2 separate regions of the Homo sapiens genome follow, and region 2 is linked to region 1. Evidence: fine-mapped expression QTL. Tissue or cell type: whole blood. Region 1 holds a variant in brackets; the other region holds the start of a gene. All regions are shown on one strand. Distances are between the middles of the regions.

Region 1 (5,226 bases):
GGTTCTTGGTCTCACTGACTTCAAGAACGAAGCCACGGACCCTCGTGGTGAGTGTTACAGTTCTTAAAGGCAGCGTGTCCAGAGTTTGTTCCTTCTGATGTTCAGATGTGTTCGGAGTTTCTTCCTTCTGGTGGGTTCGTGGTCTCGCTGGCTTCAGGAGTGAAGCTGCAGACCTTCGCGGTGAGTGTTACAGCTCTTAAGGCGGCGCGTCTGGAGTTGTTCGTTCCTCCCAGTGGGTTCGTGGTCTCGCTGGCTTCAGGGCGATGCACAACAAACAAACATTAATTGCATGGATGGATGGATGGGTGGATGGATGGGTGGATGGATGGATGGGTGGATGGATGGATGGATGGATGGATGGGTGGATGGATGGGTGGATGGATGGGTGGATGGATGGGTGGATGGATGGGTGGATGGATGGGTGGGTGGATGGATGGGTGGATGGGTGGATGGATGGATGGATGGATGGATGGATGGATGGATGGATGGATGGATAGATGTGTGGGTAAGTAAGTGACCATATGAATCAATGGATAGAAGGGTGGATTGATGGATGGATGATTAGGATCCACTTTCTGTGTGTAGCTATCCCTCTGTGATTTCCGCATAAGATCTATGTTATGGGCTAAATGTTTGTATCCCCCACAAAATGTATATGTTGATGCCCTACCCCACAATATGATGACATTTGGAGGTGGAACTTTTCAGAGGTAATTAGGCCTAGATTAGGCCACAAGGATGGGAGCCACATGGTGAAATTAGTGCCCTTATAATAAGTGGGGGCACCAGAGCTTTCTCTCTTCCCATTTACATAAACCAAGGAAGGGCCATGTGAGCACACAGCAGCAGGAAGGTGGCTGTCTACAAGCCAGGAAAGAGCTCTCAAAAGAAGCAGATCTGCTGGCACCTTCCCAGGCTACAGAACTATGAGAAATGAATGTCTGTTCCTTAAGCCATCTATGGATAGAGGGATAATCTATCCACCTGGTTAACACCTTCCAGTCTATGGTATTTTGTTACAACAGCTCAACCTAAGGCAATCTGCTTCTGCCTGTAAGTATACTTCTGCATCCAGCTCCAAATGCACATGTGACTGCTTCTGTTCTGTGTGCCTGTGTGTCTGTGTATGTTTCTCCTTCTTCTGCATGTGGTTTCATTGAAAGGGCCAGTAATACTTTAGGCATTTCTGTAAAACAGTTATGATTATGGCTCCTATCTTATAAGATTGTTATAAGTGTTTGATATGATTATTATTTTATACTTATCACTATCGATCAGTAGACTTGAATTAAAGAAGTTCAAATTTATTTTGTCTTACATTATTATTCATAAAGGCAGTTTTAATGGTTAAGACTGGGTTTGTATCTCAGCTTTACCCACCATTCATCTATCTATCTATCCATCCATCCATCCATCCATCCATCGACAGCCTCAGTTTTTCCATCTGTAAAATGGACACAATAAGACTATTTCCCTAATAGCATAGAGTGAAATAATCCATGTAAACTGCTTAGTACAATGTCTAGCACATAGTAAGCACATACTGTATGTCAGCCAATAGAAAGAGCGGAGTTCAGTGGGAAATTATAGTACTTGAAGGGAGAAAAATCTACAGATACAGGTCATGATGAGGATGCAGTGGTGATGACTCTGCAGGCATCTTCCCAAGGCTCTGACTCCTCATGGGAGGACGGGGAAGACAGGTCACACTGAGTCTGTAATGGAAGGCATTCCCCACCCTCCACCCCAATAGATGGGATCGATGGTCATGGGTGTCGAGTGTTGCCTTTCTTCAGCGAGCAGGAATGCTGGCTTGTAGCCCTGTGGCATCTCTATGTTGAATGTCTCCCTCCAGAACTAGTTTGAACACTGATTCGTTCTGTGAGGACAGACCTCTGTGGATCCTTTATTGCGTTTTTCAACTGAATTTCTTAGCACATTCTTAACAAAACTGAAAGCAGATGTCTGTGTTTATAAAGTAAGATGAACTAGACACAGGAAATGTATTTACAAGAAACGCTAACGTATCAAGTTGAGGAAGGAACTTGTTCTCTTCTGTTTTTACGAAGTGAGAAGGTTAGAAGGTCAGCCATAGCCTTGTGTCTGGTTTTCTGGGGTGCCCCTGGCACTCTTGTTGGGGCTTCCTAATTCCTGGATCCTGTCCCTGTTGTGTGCAGACATGCATTTCTGTGTTGTTTCGAAGAAAAAACTGTTATTAAAAGACAATTTGGCACCATCTCTCAGGTTCAACTACCTGCATTTTCCTCCTTTGTCCCCCTCTCCACGATAATGACTAGAGGGTCCTGAGGTAGGTAATGACCGATGGGCAGAAGTGGGGAGAAAGGCCAGGGAAGCTAAGTCGTCATACCACCTGAAGATTCTGTCTGTATAAGCCCTTCTCAGCGCTGGGGCTGATGGCCACACCTGACATCCATCCTCTCCTCAAGGAACCTCGAAAAATCTCTAGGGTGTGTGCTTTTTGCCTATTGATAATAATAAAAGTGTAAGCAGGACTGTGATCCTATTACAACAGCCAGCGTGTATGGAGTCTTTCCCATGTGCTGGGATTACACTAAGTAAGAACTTTGCAAGCATTCTCTCAGGCCCTCTCTTTCAAGACTGTTGGTAATCAGGGCTCCTATCAGCTCATTGGCGTTGTTACAGCTGTGCCACTTGTTAAAACCTGGAGATGATGCCTGAACACATCAAGTGCCTCCAACACACCCATTGCTCTGGGCTGAGGTAGGGCGTTCTGAAGGGCTGCCCTGGTGTCTACCCCTCTCCAGCAACATTCTGGGC[C/T]TCCAACAGCTCCCATCTGCATTTGACACTCCCCCAAACAGACTGGGCCCAGACCTTGGAGGGGGAGAGGCCACTCTGGAACCCCAGTGGGAAAAGCCCAGTGCCCACCTGGCTCTCTAAGCTGTGTTTACATGCCACCATCTGGTGCCCTCTGTAATTACTACAGCTGCTTATTAGAGCAGCCTCCACAGTGTAGAATACAGCATACAAAATATTTTGAATGTCACCTTGCCTTTCTTTTGCTTTTTGCATCAACTACAACAGAATTAAGGCAAAATCAACTAAGCGTTTTCTAAAATCTCCCCAGAAATTAAATGTTTTTCTTTTAAAAAAAATTTTAAATTGTTTTATATGTTGTTCAAGCTAGTCTTTTTTTAAAAAAACTTTTATTTTAGGTTCAAGGGTCCATGTGCAAGTTTGTTATATAGGTAAATTCCATGTCATGGGGTTTTGGTGTACAGATTATTTTGTCACTCAAGTAATAAATAAGCCTAGTACCCAATAGGTAGGGTTTTGGGGTTTGTGTGTGTTTGTTGGTTTTTTTTTTTGGTTTTTTGTTTGTTTGTTTGTTTGTTTGTTTGAGATGGAATCTTGCTCTGTTGCCCAGGCTGGAGTGCAGTGGCGCATTCTCGGCTCACTGAAAACTCCACCTCCCAGGTTCAAGCGATTCTCCTACCTCAACCTCCCAAATAGCTGGGATTACAGGCATGCGCCACCATGCCCAGCTAATTTTTGTATTTTTAGTAGAGACAGGGTTTCATCATGTTGGCCAAGCTGGTCTTGAACTCCTGACCTCAGGTGATCTGCCTGCCTCTGCCTCCCAAAGTGCTGCGATTACAGGCGTGAGCCACTGCGCCTGGCCCTCAATAGGTAGTTTTTTGATCCTCACCCTCCCCCAACCCTCCACCCTCAAGTAGGCCCGAGTGTCTGTCTTTCCCTTCTTTGTGTCCGTATCTACTCACTCTTTAGCTCCCCCTTATAAGTGAGAACATATGGCATTTGGTTTTCTGCTCCTATGTTAGTTCGCATAGGATGATAGCCTCCAGCTCCGTCTGTGCTTCTGCAAAGGACATGATCTCATTCTTTTTCATGTCTGTGTAGTATTCCATGGTGTACAGGCACCACATTTTCTTTATCCAGTCTACTGCTGATGGGAACAGGCTAGTCTTGAACACAGGCTGTAGCTATCTTCCCTCCTCAGCCTCCCAAAGTGCTGGGATTACAGGCGTGAGCCACCACACCTGGCCTTTTTCATTTTTAGCTATTGTTTTAGAGACTTTGTTTGTACATATCCATAATTATTACACAGTTGTAATCACGGAAAAGTTTATTTTTTAAATCTTGCTTCTTTCATGGAACATTATGACATAAGTATTTTCTCAAATTGTTACAGATTTCAAAATTATTATTTTAATAATTTATCAGATCCCACTTGGAAGGGATCTCATAAATCAGAGATCTGATCCCATACATTTCCCCAGCAGGTATTAGCTAGCCAAAGTTCTCCTGATGGGCCAAATTCATAGTCCTGAAGAAGAAATCCCTGTAGAACGTCACAAGCAGCCATAATTACAATGTTGCCAAGACACCTGGTTCTTTGCTTCTACATTGTTTGTTTTACTGCCCTTTTCTTGGGGAAGCTCAATGCCTGCGTTACTTTGAAGCTTTTGGTAGAGGTACTAAGCCTTCAACTAAAGCAAGGCAACTAGAACAAGCTGTTAGTTTTGAAAACACAGCCTGTCCACTAGGTTCCAGAATGAGGCCACTAATTTCTCAGAAACATCACTTCATGATCTCAAGGAGACTAATTTGTTGATTTATGAGAACATTTTTAAAAATCGGGTCACCCTTTCCCATGCCCTAAATCAATTGTCACTACACTTTGCCATGTCTTTTTTCAAGTCAGGAAAGTAATAAAGAAAAATAAGAGAACGCTTGAAAACACTTGATATTCAGCACACTTTCCTGTGGCTAAGGTTTTAGATTTTTTTTTTTTTTTTTGGTAGAACATAATATTATCCCATGCTTAGCTTGCTAAAGGCAATTTAGCAGCAGGATTTACCTAACAGAACAGTTTTGGCTTTATCTAATTTTAGGTAATTACCTCTCTTTTCAAAGCTCATTTCTCTTGTGCTTTTGCTGGTCTTGATGTGTCACACAACAGCATTCACCCCCAGGATCTACTGCTCTTAAAGCAATAGAAAGAACAGCTCAATTTCCTTTATCAAATATCAAGCATGAAATATAGGTCCACGTGTAAAATAAGGAATTTGATACCAGTCATAAAAATCTACCCACAAACAGGTGGAGAATAAAAAAAAAAAGCAAAATGCCTAGATCAATAAAATATTTCATAAACCCAAGCAAACACTAACATTACTGAGAGCTGGATATCTAATCTGAGTCATTACCCAAATAGGGCGACTC
Region 2 (5,226 bases), 37 kb after region 1:
AACCAACGGGACCTGCTGAAGGACTGGAGGTAGGTAGTGAGGAAATGAGAAATTTAGGTTCTTCTCCAGGGTTGGGGCCTGAAAAGAGATGGGCAGCGATGCCGTTTCCTGGAAAACTGGGAGAGGAAATGTTTGGGATGAGGGCAGTGAGATATAATGAAGGTCAAGTTTTTTTTTTGTTTTTTTTTTTTTTTTTTTGAGACGGAGTCGTGCTCAGTCGCCCAGGCTGGAGTGCAGTGGCGCGATCTCGGCTTACCGCAAGCTCCGCCTCCCGGGTTCACGCCATTCTCCTGCCTCAGCCTCCCAAGTAGCTGGGACTACAGGAGCCCGCCACCACGCTCGGCTAATTTTTTTGTATTTTTAGTAGAGACGGGGTTTCACCGTGTTAGCCAGGATGGTCTCGATCTTCTGACCTCGTGATCCGCCCATCTCGGCCTCCCAAAGTGCTGGGATTACAGGCGTGAGCCACCGCGCCGGCCGAAGGTCAAGTTTCAGTGGTGCTAGGAAAAGAAGATAGTGAGCAAAAATGTTAATTTTTGTTTCCTCCTCTTAATATTTGGAGAAAACGTCTGCTTCCTTTTGTTATATTGGAAATCTCCATGACTTCCAAATACAGAATATTTTACAATTTTTCCCTATCCCAAAGTTCAGCGAATATGTTGATTTATTTGAGGGAGAGGACATGAAAGGGAAGCCACCTAGGCACAATTTTCTGCTCAGGCCCTACCAGATTAGTTTTTGTTATCAAAAAAAAAAAAAAAAGTGCCATTCCTTGGGCCAAGCTATGTGCTCAGCACTTTCCCTCCATTTTTGATTTAATCTTCACAACAACCTTAAGATGAACGTTCTTTTCTACTTCCCAGTTCTCTTGATTAACTTGGCTACCCCACTATATGGATCAATTTGCAGGGTCCTAGGTCCCTTTGAAAATCTGATGAAAGTTATAAACCTTACCTGGGAAAAAAGTACAAACACCCGCAAGAACTTGAAATAGGAGTTCACTGGCCCTCAACTTTCTGAGCTTACTATTTCACAAACCTGCCTATTCTTGAATTCTGAGCTGGAGGTCATGATTCTCTCTTATGTACTTTAAGATGATGCACTCTTCCGAAGTTTTTGATTGAACTCTAGTGGCTAACTGAATTGACTTTTTCAGATCACTAAAAAGCTTCTCCTTGAAAAATACTCAGAAGATGCAACACACACACACACACACGTGTGTGCACTTACACACGCGGACACCGTCTCACATCATCAGTGGGAAAAGTGATAGAATCTTGCTAAAGGCTGATCATACCATATTAATCCGATTCGCCAGAACTACTTTCTTCACTGAGCTCTCAGGTATGCTCGGGTCTTCCTTTAAAGAAAATAAATGTCAACGCTACACTCTATCCTACTCCCATTTTCCTCCTCACCCCATTTCCACTCTCCCTTAAAGAGATGTGTGCACACAATCACTGCCCAATGCAAGAATGCACCACTGCATCCAATGCTTGGAAATTGTCCGTGAAGATGCCTTTGAGTAGCTGTCTATTTGAGGATTTGTGGCTAATTCCTCCCCATTTGTTTCCTTAGCCTGCTCCCAACCAGGTGTCTCCAGAACTTTTTCTCTCCGCCACCAACTCCGCCTCCAGACAGACCGCAGGTGCTTTCTGTCATAGGGACTGGCGTGCCGCGGACAGTGTGACAAAGAAACTGTATGATGGATATGAGAACTTCGTAAGACCCAGCAGCAAACGGGGAGCGGCTGGCGAGCGCTCCACAGCCCCCAAGCGTGGGAGCTCTAGATCGGAATTTGTAATTTGGAATTGGAACGTGAGCGCCGGAACAGCTCTCCCAGCAACCACCTCTCCCAGCAACCACCTCAGCTGGCGCGCGGAAAACCCGGAAAGTGGATTTCGCCCCCGCTCCCTCCCGGAAACTCCTCCTGGTGCCTGCGACCGTTCTCACTGAGCATGTGCAGACGGCGGTGCGCATGCTCTGTTGCGGTCCGCTTCGGTTTCTGTTGCGGGACCCGGGGTGTCTCCTAGCGCAACCGGAACTAGCCTTCTGGGGGCCGGCTTCCTTTATCTCTGGCGGCCTTGTAGTCGTCTCCGAGACTCCCCACCCCTCCTTCCCTCTTGACCCCCTAGGTTTGATTGCCCTTTCCCCGAAACAACTATCATGAGCGCGAGGCTGCCGGTGTTGTCTCCACCTCGGTGGCCGCGGCTGTTGCTGCTGTCGCTGCTCCTGCTGGGGGCGGTTCCTGGCCCGCGCCGGAGCGGCGCTTTCTACCTGCCCGGCCTGGCGCCCGTCAACTTCTGCGACGAAGAAAAAAAGAGCGACGAGTGCAAGGTGGGTGAGGCCTGACGAGCCCTCTGATGCACTGTTGGAAGGGGAAGTCGTCCCTATCCGGGGGAGCTGATCCTCGGGTGGGAGCGAGGGAAGGGGGCGTAGCAGCGGGTGGGGTTGAGTTTCCCCAGAAGCTTTTGGGGTCTGCTGGGCTGTGGGTGGGGGGCTCTGAAACAGCCCTTGCAAGGGTAGTTTCTGGAGGACGCAGTGGGCCTCAGACTCGCCTCCCGTCTTGCGGGCCAAGTGGCACGAGCAGCTGTATTCAGTTTTCCTGGAACAGGGACCGTGTGGAGCGCCCTTGGAGTTGGGCTTCACGCCTCAGAGCTTTGGAGTTGGATGTATGCAGGTCCACGCGTGAGTGTTCGCTCACAGCCCTGTAACATGTACGCTGAGGAAGCGGGTGACCGACTCCCTACATGTGAGCAACACTCAGCCTAGTTAACAGTTTCCATTAGCTTTTAACTTCATTGCTTCCTGTTTAATTGCATTTTCCTGGAACCTTCTAGTTGGTTAGGAGAGCTTGTTCTTTCTAGGACTTTGATATCTCGCTTCACAATTAGAAGTTGGTTCCTTATTTGTGGAGTATAACACCCAGAGCCACACAAAGTGCATTAATAAAGAGTTGCTGTAATGGTTGAGGCACTTGATTTCTGAGTTTTAAGTGTAAAAGATTTTAATACACAAAAAAAGATACGAGGTCTCACTATTTTCTCTGAGATGGTTTTAAACACTTAAAAGGGGCAAATGGTGGGAGAAACTGGTGTTTTCCTAGGGCAAGTCTTGAAAACTTTGATCTCTTACAACATTCACACTCAAGGTTTTCAGTTTAATTGCTAGTAAAAGAGGCGTAAATAAAGTAACCTGCTTTTAGGTTATATGGTGTAGGGCTTTACAGTATACATACACAATTATTTCGTTAAGTTTATTTAAAACTTAACATTTGGGGGATGAGGATCTCTTTGAAACCTTTAATGATTTCAACAATTCAAATAATCGTTCAACAAACGTTTACAATCTATAAATAGGCTTATTTATTAAGTTTGATTTTTTTAAGCTGGTGTTTATTACAGTTAGCTTTACTATAGCTGTGAATTTTGAGGTTATTTTAGGGCATTAGATAAGCTTTAAATTTTTCATAACATTTTGCAGTTTCTTTTTAGGTTGTCAGCTATCTTGAATGACATGTTTATACATCTGTGCAAAACCTTGTATCTGAAAAAATATCTAAGGATATTTAAGGTTTACTCAAGTCTGCAGTTAGTGTTTCAGTACTTAAGTTCATACTCTGCAGTGCAAGAAGCTTTCACTCCTTTTTGAGGATTCTGACTGAAAGACTGTTGTTGTGCTTCCAAGTGGAAGATCTAGACTTGCAAGTACACTGGTTTTTCCATTAAATATTTTAGTAACCAACCTTTAAGGCCTAGTGTTTGGTCTTACTTTAACAGCAGTTGTATATTCTATTCCTAGTGCCTCAAAGATGAAAAATATATTTCCTGCCCTCTGGGAACCTCAAAGTAAGGGACATAAGCTTATGAACAGATTATTGAAATCTGATCTGTTACACAGGATGATGTCCAAAGTGTGCTAAAACAAAATGAGGAAACATCAGTGGACTAGAGTCTTTAGGGAAAGCTCTATAGAAGAAGTGACAGGGCCAGGTGTGGTGGCTCACGCCTGTAATCCCAACACATTGGGAGGCCGAGGCGGGTGGATCACCTGAAGTCAGGAGTTTAAGACCAGCCTGGCCAATATGGTGAAACCGCGTCTCTACTAAAAATACAAAAATTAGCTGGGCGTGGTGGCGGGCATCTGTAATCCCAGCTACTCGGGAGGCTGAGGCAGGAAGAATCGCTTGAACTCTGGAGGTGGAGGTTGCAGTGAGCTGAGATCGCGCCATTGCACTCCAGCCTGGGCAACAGAGCGAGACTTTGTCTCAAAAAAAAAAAAAAAAAAAAAAAGAAGAAGAAGTGACATTTGAGATGGACTTAGAAAATGAATAAGTGAAACTTATAGGTGGTCTTCCAGTTAGATGATTGTTTTCTCAACAGGTCCTTTGGTAAGTGGCTAGGTTGTATTCTAGTTATTTTTTAGTTAATCTTGGGAGTCATTTTGGATGTTTAATTTTCATAGGTATAGGGATAAAACAGGCAGAGCAGATCATTTTTCCGAAATGTTTGGATTTTTATCTTTATTGCCAGCTACACTCACATCTGGTTAATGGAAACAACTCTTAGAAGAGCAGGAGGGTGTACTTTCAGCTTTTTTCCTGCGATATGACTAACTGGTGTAGAGAATTTGAAATACACTTTAATATTTATTTTCTTTGCCTTTCAAAGAAGATGCTATAAATAACAGTAAACAGTTGAAATTTGTATTACTTCAATCAGGATGTTAATAATTTATTCTCATCTATTTCGTATTTGTTAAGGAGGACAGTCTTGTACACATTATTCAGAAAAGTGGAAGGAACTTCTTTTAAAAATTAGAAATGAGAGTTGTGAAATGGAAATAATTTTTTCCAAAAGATGCTGTTAAGTTAGTGAATCTGAAGTTGGAGAAATTGGGCAGGTCATTGATACTGTTACCAACAGTTTTTCCATCTGTAAAATAGGGATAATCATATTTGATTATGACATATTCCCCTTGAAAGGTATTTTGCATTTCTTAGAGGAAAAGTGCAATATTTGTCATTGTTGTGATAGTGTAGAGATGAAACAAATATATCTTCAACTTATATATAATTTAGGTAGTAGAGTGTTTTTATGTACTGTAAAGTTTGTCTCATGCATTTAGCTCAGGATGTAAATTGAGAGAGAATCAGAAGAATGCTGAGGATTTAGTAATTTTCTCTCTTTAAAAATTATCTTATGTTGAATTTACTGGCAGAGAAAC

The links. PIP is the estimated chance that this variant, and not a neighbour inherited with it, causes the effect.
Region 2: it holds the start of TM9SF2, and the variant in region 1 is fine-mapped to the expression of TM9SF2 in whole blood (TOPMed, PIP above 0.99).

What each region holds. Positions count from the first base shown.
Region 1 is chr13:99,462,740-99,467,965 of GRCh38, forward strand. No RefSeq gene overlaps it. Among named protein-coding and RNA genes, the nearest start is that of LNCARGI, 33 kb to the left of the region's middle. The variant C/T (reference allele first, on the strand shown) is at 2,800.
Region 2 is chr13:99,499,441-99,504,666 of GRCh38, forward strand. It overlaps TM9SF2 (transmembrane 9 superfamily member 2), which reads left to right and starts at 2,032. Exons shown (of 17, transcript NM_004800.3): 1 at 2,032-2,337. The coding sequence starts at 2,167. LINC00449 (long intergenic non-protein coding RNA 449) reads right to left here and starts at 1,623. Exons shown (of 2, transcript NR_133664.1): 1 at 955-1,623; 2 at 283-500. RefSeq lists enhancers at 1,738-1,917, 1,824-2,412.